Homo sapiens: one gene and its partner. The protein of the gene in region 2 purifies or fractionates together with the protein of the main gene of each other region. This does not show direct contact. Each region holds a gene or a part of one and is shown on either strand. Other genes may lie near its edges.

Region 1 (4,020 bases), on a different chromosome or scaffold from region 2:
GTGCAGTGGTGTGATCACGACTCACTGCAGCCTCGACCTCCTAGGCTCAGATGATCCTCCCACCTCCGCCCCCAAATGGCTGGGACTGCAGGTGTGCACCACCACATCCGGCTAATTTTTTATAGAGATGGGGTTTCGCCATGTTGCCCAGGCTGGTCTCAAACTCCTGAGGTCAAGTGATCCATTGGCCTCAGCCTCCCAAAGTGCTGGGATTATAGGTGTGGGCCACTGTGCCCAACCTGTTTCAAGTTCTTGTCTGCATGTCTATTTCTACGGGAACCCTAACTAGAAACTACATTTTTTTTTTTTTGACAGTCTCGCTCTGTCGCCCAGGCTGGAGTGCAGTGGCGTGATCCTGGCTCACTGCAACCTCCGCCTCCTGGGTTCAAGTGATTCTCCTGCCTCAGCCTCCTGAGTAGCTGGGATTACAGGCGTGTGCTACCACGCCCAGCGAATTTTTGTATTTTTAGTAGAGACGGGGTTTCACCATGTTGGTCAGGCTGGTCTCGAATTCCCAACCTTGTGATCTGCCCGCCTCGGCCTCCCAACGTGCTGGGATCACAGGCGTGAGCCACCGCACCTGGCCAGAAACTACATCTTTTTAAACAAAAATGACACTTACTTACTATATAAAATGTGAGAAAATATAATCAAGCAAAAGGAAGAACATATAACTCATAATTTTATCATTTAGAGAAATATGTATTATCGATATTTTGGTATATTTTCATTTGTGTTAGTATATCTAAAAGGATCATACTGTACATATTTTGTGAGTAAGTTTTAATTATAGGAACAATTATAGCAATCAGAAACAATTTCCTTTTTGCTTTTTCCCCAAATGAAAATTCTTCAGATTTGTTTTCTCCAATAATTCTTTAAAAAGTGTCAGTGTAATCTGTTTTTCTGAGATAACCATTGTTAACTATTCTGTATATGCTTTTTCTGACTACATATTTATATACTATATTAAAATATCAATGGAAGTGTATTTTATATATTATTCTGTAACCTGCTTTTTCATTAGCAATATTATTAACATAAAAAGACGAAAAGCATAGATGTTTATTGCAGAAAAATAAGAAAGTACAGATAAACAAAAAAGAGTATTAAAAATGAAAATTGGCCGGGCACGGTGGCTGACGCCTGTAATCCCAGCACTTTGGGAGGCTGAGGCAGGCAGATCACCTGAGGTCAGGAATTTGAGACCAGCCTGACCAACATTGAGAAACCCCGATTCTACTAAAAATACAAAAATTAGCCGGGTGTGGTGGCTCATGCCTGTAATCCCAGCACTCGGGAGGCTGAGGCAGGAGAATCGCTTGAACCCGGGAGGCGGAGGTTGTGGTGAGCTGAGATCGCGCCATTGCACTCCAGCCTGGGCAACAAGAGCGAAACTCCGTTTCAGAAAAGGAAAAAAAAAAAAAAAAGGAAAATCACATCTATTGTAACAATCCAGGGATAAATACTATTAATTTTGGTGTACCTTTTCTTATCTGTTTGTTTTTTGAGAGAGTGTCACTCTATTACCCAGGCTTGAGTGCAGTGGCACCCTCTCGGCTCACTGCAACCTCCCCCTCTGGGGCTCAAGTAATCCTCTTGTCTTAGTCTCCTGAGTAGCTGGGACCACGGGCACATACCACCACGCCCGCCTAATTTTTTGTATTTTTTTGTAGAGACGGGATTTTGCCATGTTGCCTATGCTGGTCTCGAACTCCTGAGCTCAAGAGAGGCACCTGCCTCGGCCTCCCAAAGTGCTAGGATTACAAGCGTGAGCCACCATGCTGGGCCTTCTTTTTTTAGACTTAAAAAAATTTCACATAAATATTCATGTAAATAATGAGTTTAGGAATGAGATCATACTATATAAACAGTTTTGTTAACTGTCACTTAGCAATATGCTGTGAGCATTTTTCTATAATGGTAAATATTAAGATATTGTTAATGACGATATCAAAACCTTTTAACCAGCTTTCATTTGCTAAAGTTTAGAATGTTTCTTGGTTTGCAAAAAAAATTTATAAATGGTATCATTATAAACATCCTTAGAGTTAAATCGTTGGGTGCATCCATTATTATTTCCTTAGGATACATTTCAAGGAGTAAAATTATTGGGTCAAAGGTTTATACTTTTTTTTTTTTTTTTTCTGAGACAGAATCTCGCTCTGTCGCCCAGGCCTGAGTGCAGTGGCGCTATCTCGGCTCACTGCAACCTCCGCATGCCGGGTTCACGCCATTCTCCTGCCTCAGCCTCCCGAGTAGCTGGGAGTACAGGCGCCCGCCACCACGCCCGGCTAATTTTTTGTATTTTTAGTAGAGACGGGGTTTCACCGTGTTAGCCAGGATGGTCTTGATCTCCTGACCTCGTGATCCGCCCGCCTTGGCCTCCCAAAGTGCTGGGATTACAGGCGTGAGCCACTGCGCCTGGCAAAGGTTTATACATTTTAACGAGTTTGATAAATATTGCCAAATTGCCTGCCAGAGGGGTTTTGCTAATTCATACTTCTAGTAGGGAAGGAAAATTACCTTCTTTTCCTCTGGTTTTCAACAATGTTGTTTATTATAACTAAAAAAAAATCTTATTACCATGGAATTCAATTATAGTACTTGTATTTCAAGCGATCCTTTTGCCATTGACTTTTAACTTTTGAAAGGTTTTTGAAAACTGTGTAATTTGTTTCAAATTTCTTTGCATGTGAATTGTCAAATTCCCCACCACCAGAGGCATCTATGTATTTCCTCTTATTAAGTATTTAAGCATGTGAGGTCTTATCATCCATATAAATTGTAATTCGTGTTCATAAGAATTCCAGTCTGTTTAAGTTAATCCATTTCTCTAAGATGTTAATAATTCATACCAAAGTCTTACCCTTACATTGTACCTGCTGCAGTGAAATATTATCCCCAAGCTGTTTTACTATAACAAGATCGACTTTTCCTACTTCTGATTTTAAATATTTACTTTCTTTCCTTTAAAGGTTTTGCAGATGTGAATGGTTGGCACCTTCGTTTCCGCTGGTCCAAGGATGCTCCCTCAGAACTCCTGAGGAAGTTCAGAAACTATGAAATATGAAATATCTCTGCTTCAAAAAATGAGGAAGAGCAAGACTGTCCCCTATGCTGCCAACATGCAGTCTTTGTTTATGTCTTAAAAATGTCATGTTTATGTCATGTCTGTGAATTGCTGAGTACTAATTGATTCCTCCATCCTTGAATCAGTTCTCATAATGCTTTTTAAATAAGAAAAATTCAGAAGATGAATTTCTTCCAATATTTGAATAAATTAAAGCTCTTAGATACAGAGTAGATTGTATTATATGCTTTTTCCTATTAATACTACTTATAGAAATCCATTAAAAAGCAATCTCTGTACAGTGTATTTAAATATTTCATTGACATACTGTGATCTCTATTAGTGATGGATGTACAAAAAATGTTTTCTTACCCTTGACTTACAATGAAATGTGAAATTACTTGTCTGAACCCCGTGGGGAGAAATAAATAATTTTCCCAAAGTTCATAAATGAATTTATAATTCAATTTTTTTTAGGGTCTTGCTCTGTCACCCAGGCTATGCAGTGGCATAATCATAGCTCAATACAACCTCAAACTCCTGTGCTCAAATTATCCTCTTACCTCAGCCTCCCTAGTAGCTGGGACTAGAGGCACACGCCACCATGTCTGGCCAATTTTTTATTTTCTATAGAGGTGAGGTCTTGCTATGTTGCCCAAGCTAGTCTTGTACTCCTGGCCTCAAGTGATCCTCCCATCTTGGCCTCCCAAAGTGCTCAGAATACAGGCATGAGACACCATGCCCAGCCTTGATGGTATTTTAAAAATAATTTGAATAGATATTTCTAACCTAATTTTAAAAGTTATGATTTATTTGAGGAAAAAAATATATGTATATATATATTTTTTAGATGGAGTCTCACTCTGTCACCCAGGCTGGAATGCAGTAGCATGATCTCAGCTCACTGCAACCTCTGTCCCTTGGGTTCAAGTGATTCTCCTGCCTCA
Region 2 (9,272 bases):
ATTTGGATGCCTTTTACTTCTTTGTCTTGCCTGATTGCTCTGGCTATGACTTCCAGCACTATGTGGAATAGGAGTGGTGGGAGTGGGCATCCTTGTCTTGTTCTGGTTGTCAAGGGGAATGCTTCCAGCTTTTGCCCATTCCATATGATGTTGGCTGTGGGTTTGTCATATATGGCTGTTATTATTTTGAGGTATGTTCCTTCAATGCCTAGTTTGTTGAGGGCTTTTAACATGAAAGCATGTTGGGATTTTGTTTTTTAAATTTGGTTCTAGCAGTCTCCTAGAATACCAAACACTTTCATTTAATCATTTAATCTCTAGCAGACCCTGGTTATAGGTCCACTTCAGGTCTATTCTTGGAGTTGTAAACATTTTATCATTCTGTCTTTCAATAAATATCTTCTGAATCCTCACATAAGCAATGCAGTGTGTAAGTATACCTTAGTATGTAGCAGAAGGGCTTATGTAAAGCAAGGGGGCTTTTGCACAGGCCAAATAGGAAAGTAAAAAATCCATGAAGAATAAAATATGGGTGCTATACACACCTGTTGATTGAGTTTGGGGCTTCCCAGCTGAGGTGAGCTGCTGATGGCAGTGGTAGTAAAGAGAAATCCAGGTTTTTGAGATAATCTTTCTTAATGATAATCACACCTTTCACATATTCATGTACATTCTCATTTTGCTCTTGTCATTTCACTCCTCACAACAGTCCTGTGAGGTAGAGCTCGTTACTCACATTTTTATTTTTATTTTTTGAGATGGAATCTTGCTGCATTGTCCAGGCTGGATCACAGTGGCGAGATCTCAGCTCACTCTAACCTCCACTTCCTGGGTTCAAGCAATTCTCCTGCCTCAGCCTCCCAAGTAGCTGGAATTACAGTTGCGCACCACCACAGCCACCTACTTTTTATATTATTTGGTAGAGATGGGGTTTCACCATGTTGGCCAGGCTGGTCTCGAACTCCTGACCTCAAGTGACTTGCCTGCCTTCGCCTCCCAAAGTGCTGGGATTACAGACATGAGCCACCGCACCTGGCCTTGTTATTCACATTTTACTGCATGAAAACTGAAGTCCAGAGGGATGAAGTGGTTTGCCCAATGTCACATGTCTAGTACATGATCTTGGATTGGAGCTCAAGCCTATGGGCTTGCAGGGAGTTCTCATTTCAGAGTACCAACTCTATGCTAATGTCAGAGCTAGCATTTTTTCACCAAATCTAAGGTATAAAATGCACCATTGTTTTATGTACCACTCAAGATGAAATACAAACTATGATATGCCATTGAATGAAGGATGCACTCAATATCAGAGATATGAAAGTGTTAGACATAGTTTTATAAGAAGCATAAATTTTATTTGGACTGGGCACAGTGGTTCACACCTATAATCCCAGCACTTTGGGAGAATGAGGTGGGAGAATCACTTGAGCCCAGGAGTTAGAGACCAGCCTGGGGAACATAGTGAGACCCCATCTCTAAAAAAAATTAGAAAATTATCTGGGTGTGGTGGCATGTGCCTGTAGTCTCAGCTACTCAGGAGGCAGAGGTGGGAGTATCGCTTGAGCCCAGGAGGTCAAGGCTGCAATTAGCCATGATTGTACCACTGCACCCCAGCCTGGGTGACAGAGCAAGACCATGTCTCAAAAAAAAAAAAAAAAAAAAAATCGAATATTTGTCTTGGACCTAGATACAGTCTATTTCCTTTTGTTAATATATCTGAAAATATATAGTTCAATATTTTCTCTCCACAAATAAAGTATTAGCTTAACAAATATGGTGCCTCATAAACCTTTTCTTAAGAACTGCTGTGAGAAACATGTAAACAGTGAAAAGGTCATGTTATCGTGTTAAGATAATAATGGGCATAAGGGATGTGGCAACACCGGGCAGGAAGTGATCCATCCCATTGTTGAGGGAGAAGAGGCATGAGTGACATTTATGCTCAGGAAATTGAGGAGTGACACTGGGACAGAAATGGCAAAGCAGGTATTGAAGCATCAGAGGAAGTTTGTCCTGGATCAGTGATTCCAAAATGTAGTCTGGGGGCCAGTGCTACTCTAGAATGACCCCCCACCAAAAGAGTGTTTTCATTGGTTTGTAGCAAAATGAGAAAAGTAAGAAAAAATATTATTTTTCATAAAACTAAATTTATTCAAGCTGAAAATTTATATTTATTTTGATACTTTGTCTTTCCTGTGCTGTCATTGAGATATATATATATCTTACAAATATATATATATCTCACAAATATATATATATTTGTGAAATCAGTTGTATTTCTATATATAAGCATCAAACAATTAGAAAATAAAATTTCAAAAATATGGCATTTATAATAGCATCAAAAATGTCAAACACTGCCAGCATGGTGGCTCACGCCTGTAATCCCAACACTTTGGAAGGCCAAGGGTGTGAGGATTGCTTGAGCCCAGGAGTTTGAGACCAGCTTGGGCAACATAGTGAGATCCCATCTCTACAAAAAATAAAACAATTAGTTGGCCGTGGTGATATTTACCTGTGTTCTCAGCTACTTAGGAGGCTGAGGTGGGAGAATCACTTGCCTGGGTGACAGAGTGAGACCCTGTCTAAAAAAAGAAAAAAAAAGTCAAATACTAAGGAACAAATAGCAAATCATACACAAAATCCCTATAAGGAAGCTATAAGATACGAAAAAGCAATAAAAACACAAATAAATGAAGAAACAGGCCACACTCAATATTTTAAAGACGTAAATTATTTCTAAATGATCTATAGATTCAATGTAATTCCAATAAAATCCTAAAGGGTGTGTGCATGTGTGTGTGTGTGTGTGTGTGTGTGTGTGTGTGTGTATGTGTAGAGGTAAACGACCAAGAATAACCAAAAAAGAAGAGCAAAGTGAGAAGCCTTGCTCTACTGGATATCAAGACATTTTATCAATCTAAAATATTTGGAACAATGTGGTATGGGCACAAGGAAGTGCTGATTTCCATCACAGTCAGGCCAGTAATTACCTTTGGGAAGGGAGAGGTCTGTTATCTGGAAGCAGCATATGGGAAGCTTCTGGGTGCTGCTAAAGTTTCATTTCTTAGCTAGGATGATAATTACACAGGTATTTGCCTTTCTTGTAATTTATTAAACTGCACATTTAATGTTTTATATCTTTCTCTGTATGTGTAATTTTACAACAAACCTTCTCCAAGTCACTGGAGATGTAGATGTGGGGCTGGAGTGAGTTGGTGGTGAGGGGCTTTCTTCCACACTCTTCTATCTTCATGCACATCTATACTGTCACATACGTACCTATACTCTCAGCACTTTGGGAGGCTGAGGCAGGATTGTTTGTGCCTAGGAGTTCGAGACCAGCCTGGCCAACATGGTGAGAACTCGTTTCTACCAAAAATACAAAAGTTAGCAGGGTGTGGTGGTGTGTGCCTGTATTCCCAGGTGCTTGGGAGGCTGAGGTGGGAGGATCACCTGAGCCTGGAAGGTTGAGGCTGCAGTAAGCTGAGATTGTGTCACTGCACTCCATCCAGCCTGGGCAACAGAGTGAGACCCTGTCTCAACATAAATAAATAAATAAAATAAAATAAAGAGAAGCTGCTGTCAAGCAAGCCTGGATCTTGCCCTCTCTCTCGATTTTCTATTTCATGAGGTAATAGATTTACTTTTTAGAAAAGCCACTTTGAGATGGGGTTTCTATTAGTTACAGCTACAAGGAACCAGACTGAACTAAATAAATGTCCAGGGCAGTGGGGTTTGGAGGAAGTTGTGTGGGGAACAGATTCAAGAGGAAGTAGGGGTAGAATCAATGGGACGCAATCACTGATTGGATGATGATGGTTAGAAGGGGTAATGTCCTTAAAATGGATGTACTGTTTTCCCAGTCTATTAGATGGCATCATGTACCATTAAGGATGAGATGCATAATGATATTAAAGATGTCAAAATACAAAAAAAGTGTCTTAGAATCAACTAAAGAAAGTAGTATAAGTGTATATTTTCTTTTTTTATTTTTGCAAATATGTTACTGTTTTATTAAGCCATAAAGTTTTCAGGTGGTTAGTTACACACAGTAATGAACAACTGAGGGGATGTTTAATTTTTTTCTCTAGATCTTGGGCCCTTGGTGTTAACTTTATATACATGTATTTACTATTGTGAACTGTAAACTTAGAGACCTCTATTTTTTTTTTTTTTTTTTGAGATGGAATTTCACTCTTGTTGCCCAGGCTGGAGTGCAATGGTGCGATCTCAGCTCACTGCAACCTCTGCCTCCCGGGTTCAAGCAATTCTCCTGCCTCAGCCTCCCGAGTAGCTTGGATTACAGGCGCCTGACACCGTGCCCAGCTAATTTTATATTTTTAGTAGAGACACGGTTTCACCGTGTTGATCAGGCTGGTCTTGAACTCCTGACCTCAAGTGATTGGCCACCCTCGTCCCCTCAAAGTGCTGGGATTACAGGTGTAAGCCGCAGCGCCTGGCTGAGACCTCTATTTCTAAGAGGTTGTTGTTTGTAAATATGAAAGCTGGGTATGTTCATTTTGTTACCTATACTGATGAGTTAATTTAGTTTCTAATACATTTAATTTTATTTAATTAATTATTTTCCAGATACACAGAGCAAATAGCTTCTAATAGATTTTAAATTTACAAAAGTATAACTTTTTTTTGCAGTTTTTCTTCTTGGGTGCTATTTTATTTTCTTCTATCAATATGTGAGTATTTTTTGCAAATCAGTACTTTGAACCAACAAATAGGAAATATTAGCTTAACAAAAAAGATATTCACAATCTTTGTAAGAAAAGGTTGCAGTATTATTAATGCTATAATGACATTATGTATTAAATGTATGATATCACTGGGGAAGAACTGAGTAATTCTATTACAGCTGCAGGGTAGCATTTGAGAACTTCATGACATAGGAGCAGGAATAAGACAGGAGGTTCGAAGCAGCAGAGAGGTTTCGTATTGATTCAGTTTCAAATGAATCCTGTAGTAAATTTTCCCTCGTTTGTGGCAAAATGACAAAATTAAAGACAAAGTAGTGAGTCTTTGTGTGAAACTAAATTATTCAAACTAAAGATTTATATATTTTTTAAAACTTTTCTATTCGTATTTTTTTGTGTGTTTTGTATCTCTTTCCCCTCCATTCCTTTTTACCAATTTATTCAGAAATGATCACTTTCCCATTTTGTTAAAATTTCCTTTTTCTATTTCTATGAATTGATAATTATGGCCAATGATTAATTTCATTTATTTATTTATTTTGAGATACCTAAGCTGAAGTACAGTGGCACGGTCATATTTCACTGAATCCTCTATCTCTGGGACTTAAGTTACCCTTTTGCCTTGCCTCAGCCCCACCTGAAACTATAGGCAAGTACCACCATGCCATGCTAATTTTTTTACTTTTATTTTTAGTAGAGAAGAGGTTGCCCTATGTTGCCCAGGCTGGTCTCAAACTCCTGAGTTCAAGTGATCCTTCTGCCTTGGCCTCCCAAAGTATTGGGATTTGAGCCAATGTGCCAAGCCAACAGATGCTTAATTTAGAGAAAGTTTTTATTTTGCAAGAAAGAAAGGCACAAAAACCCAAAACCAACACCAACTCTTGTTAATCTCTTCGTCTACTTCCTACTTGACACAGGTCCATGAAACCCCCAGATCCAGGAACAACGCTAGCAGGTGATTCTTAGGATTGGTTTTTTCTTTAGAACCTGTTAATTCCACTGTATAAATAACCTCCCCGAGATAACCAGAAGCCTCCCCTGCACTGGGCATTGTGCCAGGGGAGGGTGAGGCTGGAAACCTTGGTTGGCCCCACTGGGCTTCCTCCATAAAGCTTTCTGCACCTCATTCCACATCAGGAGCGTTTTTGGAGAAAGCTGCACTCTGTTGAGCTCCAGGGCGCAGTGGAGGGAGGGAGTGAAGGAGCTCTCTGTACCCAAGGAAAGTGCAGCTGAGACTCAGACAAGGTCTGTGAGTTGGGGGAATCCTGTTTTCAGCTTAGGTCTGCTTTTGGTCTCAGAGATGTGTGAAGTTTAAACAAAAGGCAAGGGGTTTTGGAGTCTTTGTAAGACTGGACAGGGGTGGGGCAGGGATGTAGAGAAAAATGATGGCCAAGATGGTGACCTTCATCTTGCTTTCTTTAGATTACAATGAACCAACTCAGCTTCCTGCTGTTTCTCATAGCGACCACCAGAGGATGGAGTACAGGTGAGTCACGCTGCTAGGGACAGCAGTTCCTTCAGCTGGATGACTTCCGGGATCCTGGTCTCTCCCAGGACACAGAGCATGTCCTTGAGATGCACAGCGGCTGGCTTGCATGTAGACTGAGTGCCGATTTCTGGTCTCTGGCGGAATCTGGCCTGTGGCAGTGAAGGTATTGCTTGAGGCATGTCCTGGGTCCAGGCTCTGTGCTTTTGTGTGGCCCTGAGGGGGCTGTGGCAAGAACTGTGTCACCTTCCAGCCACTGCCCACTCCTGTGGCCTTGGCTGTGGGATTTCCATGGGAACTACATGGTCTGCTTTGTGCCTGGAGAATGTTCTCTCCACAGTTTTCCTCTCTACAACAAGAATAACAATGACATTTTAAAATTTATATTTTTCTTCACGTCTAAAAATTTTTTTTTTAAAGAAAAGGCTGTTTCGAAATATCTTCTTACTTCATCTTTGCAAAAGCACTGTTTATTAACTGTGTTTTAGGTATGAGGAAACTGAGGTCAGTCACCTCTGACCTCACAGCTTTCCCCTAGACTGTTCGAATAGTTTGCAGACTTTTTGGAGTAGAGATTAGTCTCACCACTCCCTACTTCACACCCCATGTTTCAGCCATATTAAGCAGCTTGTAGTTCTACAGCTGGACTACGCTGTATTTTTTTTTTTTTCTCTAGGCCTTTGGATATGCTGTTTTCCCTGCCTTGGATTGGCTTCCTACTGATAAATCATGTTTATTCTCTCAGAATAAGCTAAGATGTCACCTGGACTGGAAGGTCTTCTGTGACTAAGACATGAGACAACCCGTCTTGCCTTCTTCTCCCAGGCAACTGCCCCGCTTACTGTCTGGCGTTTCCATTCTCCACTGTTACCTCAGAGTCTTTCTTTTGTTCTCTTGAGTTTGCCTTTCTTCTACCATTTATTCTTGTCAATACAATTTTCTGTTGACTTGTTAGCAATTCCCTCTAGAGGCAAGCTCTTGCTGGGGAACTTTAATGTCTTTGATTACTCAGTGCTTAGGGCAGGACCCAGCACAAGGACAGGTCTTGTGGCGGGAGGCAGACTTTAAGCCTGTGCTGGCTGTCAGGTCGGATGGGCTGAGTGGATATGATGCCGATGGGCTGAGTGGATGTGACACTGATGGGCTGAGTGGATATGACACTGGCTGTCTCAGGCCTTACCACCCGGGCAGCGAGGTTCTGCTACAGTGGTGGAATGAGCGTGGGACTAGTGATAGGAGAGGGTAGGTTTTGTGTCAAACCGGGAATGAGAATAAACCCTGTGTATTCCCTAGATGAGGCTAATACTTACTTCAAGGAATGGACCTGTTCTTCGTCTCCATCTCTGCCCAGAAGCTGCAAGGAAATCAAAGACGAATGTCCTAGTGCATTTGGTGAGTGATGAAACATTCAAACAGAGCTCAGTCAGGGTATCAGGATTGTGTCTTCTGGGAGTCTTTTTGTCTTTTAGTTAAAAAATTATGGTAAAGTATATGTATATTATAATTTACATAAGATTTGCCATTTTAAGCAACATTAAGTGTGCAATTCAGTGGCATTAATTACCTTCAAGGTTGTGCAACCATCACAGCTATCCATATGCAGAACTTTTTCAGTGCCCCAAACAGAAACTCTGTACTTAATAACATGGAGGGGCCGGGTGCGGTGGCTCAGGCCTGTAATCCCAGCACTTTAGGAGGCTGAGAGGGGTGGATCAGTTGAGGCCAGGAGTTTGAAACCAGCTTGGCTAACATGGTGGGGCCCTGTCTCTACTAAAATACAAAAATCAATTGGGTGTGGAGTACATGTTTGTAATTCCAGCTACTTGGGAGGCTGAGGTGGGAGGATCGCTTGAACTCAGGAGGCAGAGGTTGCAGTGGGCCAAGATAGTGCCACTTCACTCCAGCCTGGGCAACAGAGTGAGACTCCATCTCAAAAACAAAAACAAAAACAAAACAAAACAAAAAATAACATGGAGTTATTAAGCAATAACTCTCTTCCCTCAGTCTCTGGTAGCTGCATTTTACTTTCTATCTCCATGAATTTGCCTAGTGTAGTTACCTCATGTAATTGGAGTCATATGGTATTTGTCCTTTGGTGTCTGGCTTATTTCACTTAGCACAGTGTTTTGAGGGTTTGTCCATGCTGTAGCATGGATATTTCATTCCCTTTTATCCACTGCAGATACATATATGCACACACACCATGTTTTGTTTATTCATTCACCTGTTGGTGAATATTTGAATTGTTTCTTCTATTTGGCTCTTGTGACTAATGCTGCAATGAACACTGGTGTAAAAGCATCAGCTTGAGGCCCTGTTTTCAATTCTTTTGGGGATAGACCTGCAGTGGAATTGCTGGGTCATACAATAATTCCATGTTTAACTTTATGAAAAATGTCACTGGGATTTTATACAATTCTATGTTCTGCCTCAGTTACAGGAGCATGATCTTCTGAACTCAGGGAGGCCCCAGTACCCCTGGGAGCACTTAGTGATGTGAGTCAGGACAGGAGCCTTTAGGCCATGTCTCTGGTTCCTAGGGCCTTTCTTGTCATGGGGCTGAAATGAACCCTCAGCTCTCAGACAGGGAGGCTCTGGGCTGGTTCTCTCTACAGATGGCCTGTATTTTCTCCGCACTGAGAATGGTGTTATCTACCAGACCTTCTGTGACATGACCTCTGGGGGTGGCGGCTGGACCCTGGTGGCCAGCGTGCACGAGAATGACATGCGTGGGAAGTGCACGGTGGGCGATCGCTGGTCCAGTCAGCAGGGCAGCAAAGCAGTCTACCCAGAGGGGGACGGCAACTGGGCCAACTACAACACCTTTGGATCTGCAGAGGCGGCCACGAGCGATGACTACAAGGTTGGTGCCACTTCTTACCCACTCGGGTGAGGGTGAGGAGTGGAGTGTGGCTGGCCACAAGCCTGCAGGAGGGATGGCTGGAAGGTAGGGGTGTGGGATGGGCTGGAGAAGAAGAGAGAAATACTTATATCTTTTTTTTTTTTTTTTTTTTTCTTGAGACGGAGTCTTACTCTGTTGCCCAGGTTGGAGTGCAGTGGTGTGATCTCGGCTCATA

What was found. Proteins that work in one complex are often made in the same cells at the same time.
Region 1: the proteins of ITLN1 (region 2) and DNAJC12 purify together in Homo sapiens (affinity purification with mass spectrometry; 3 studies listed by BioGRID and IntAct, with this or other methods). This does not show direct contact.

The regions. Positions count from the first base shown.
Region 1 is NC_000010.11:67,796,169-67,800,188, reverse strand, and holds the end of DNAJC12 (dnaJ homolog subfamily C member 12), read left to right. Parts: intron 1-2,978; coding exon 2,979-3,073; 3' UTR 3,074-3,520; downstream 3,521-4,020. UniProt on the Homo sapiens protein: Probable co-chaperone that participates in the proper folding of biopterin-dependent aromatic amino acid hydroxylases, which include phenylalanine-4-hydroxylase (PAH), tyrosine 3-monooxygenase (TH) and peripheral and neuronal tryptophan hydroxylases (TPH1 and TPH2).
Region 2 is NC_000001.11:160,881,743-160,891,014, reverse strand, and holds the start of ITLN1 (intelectin-1 precursor), read left to right. Parts: upstream 1-5,834; 5' UTR 5,835-5,954; intron 5,955-6,131; 5' UTR 6,132-6,137; coding exon 6,138-6,195; intron 6,196-7,488; coding exon 7,489-7,587; intron 7,588-8,810; coding exon 8,811-9,058; intron 9,059-9,272. UniProt on the Homo sapiens protein: Lectin that specifically recognizes microbial carbohydrate chains in a calcium-dependent manner.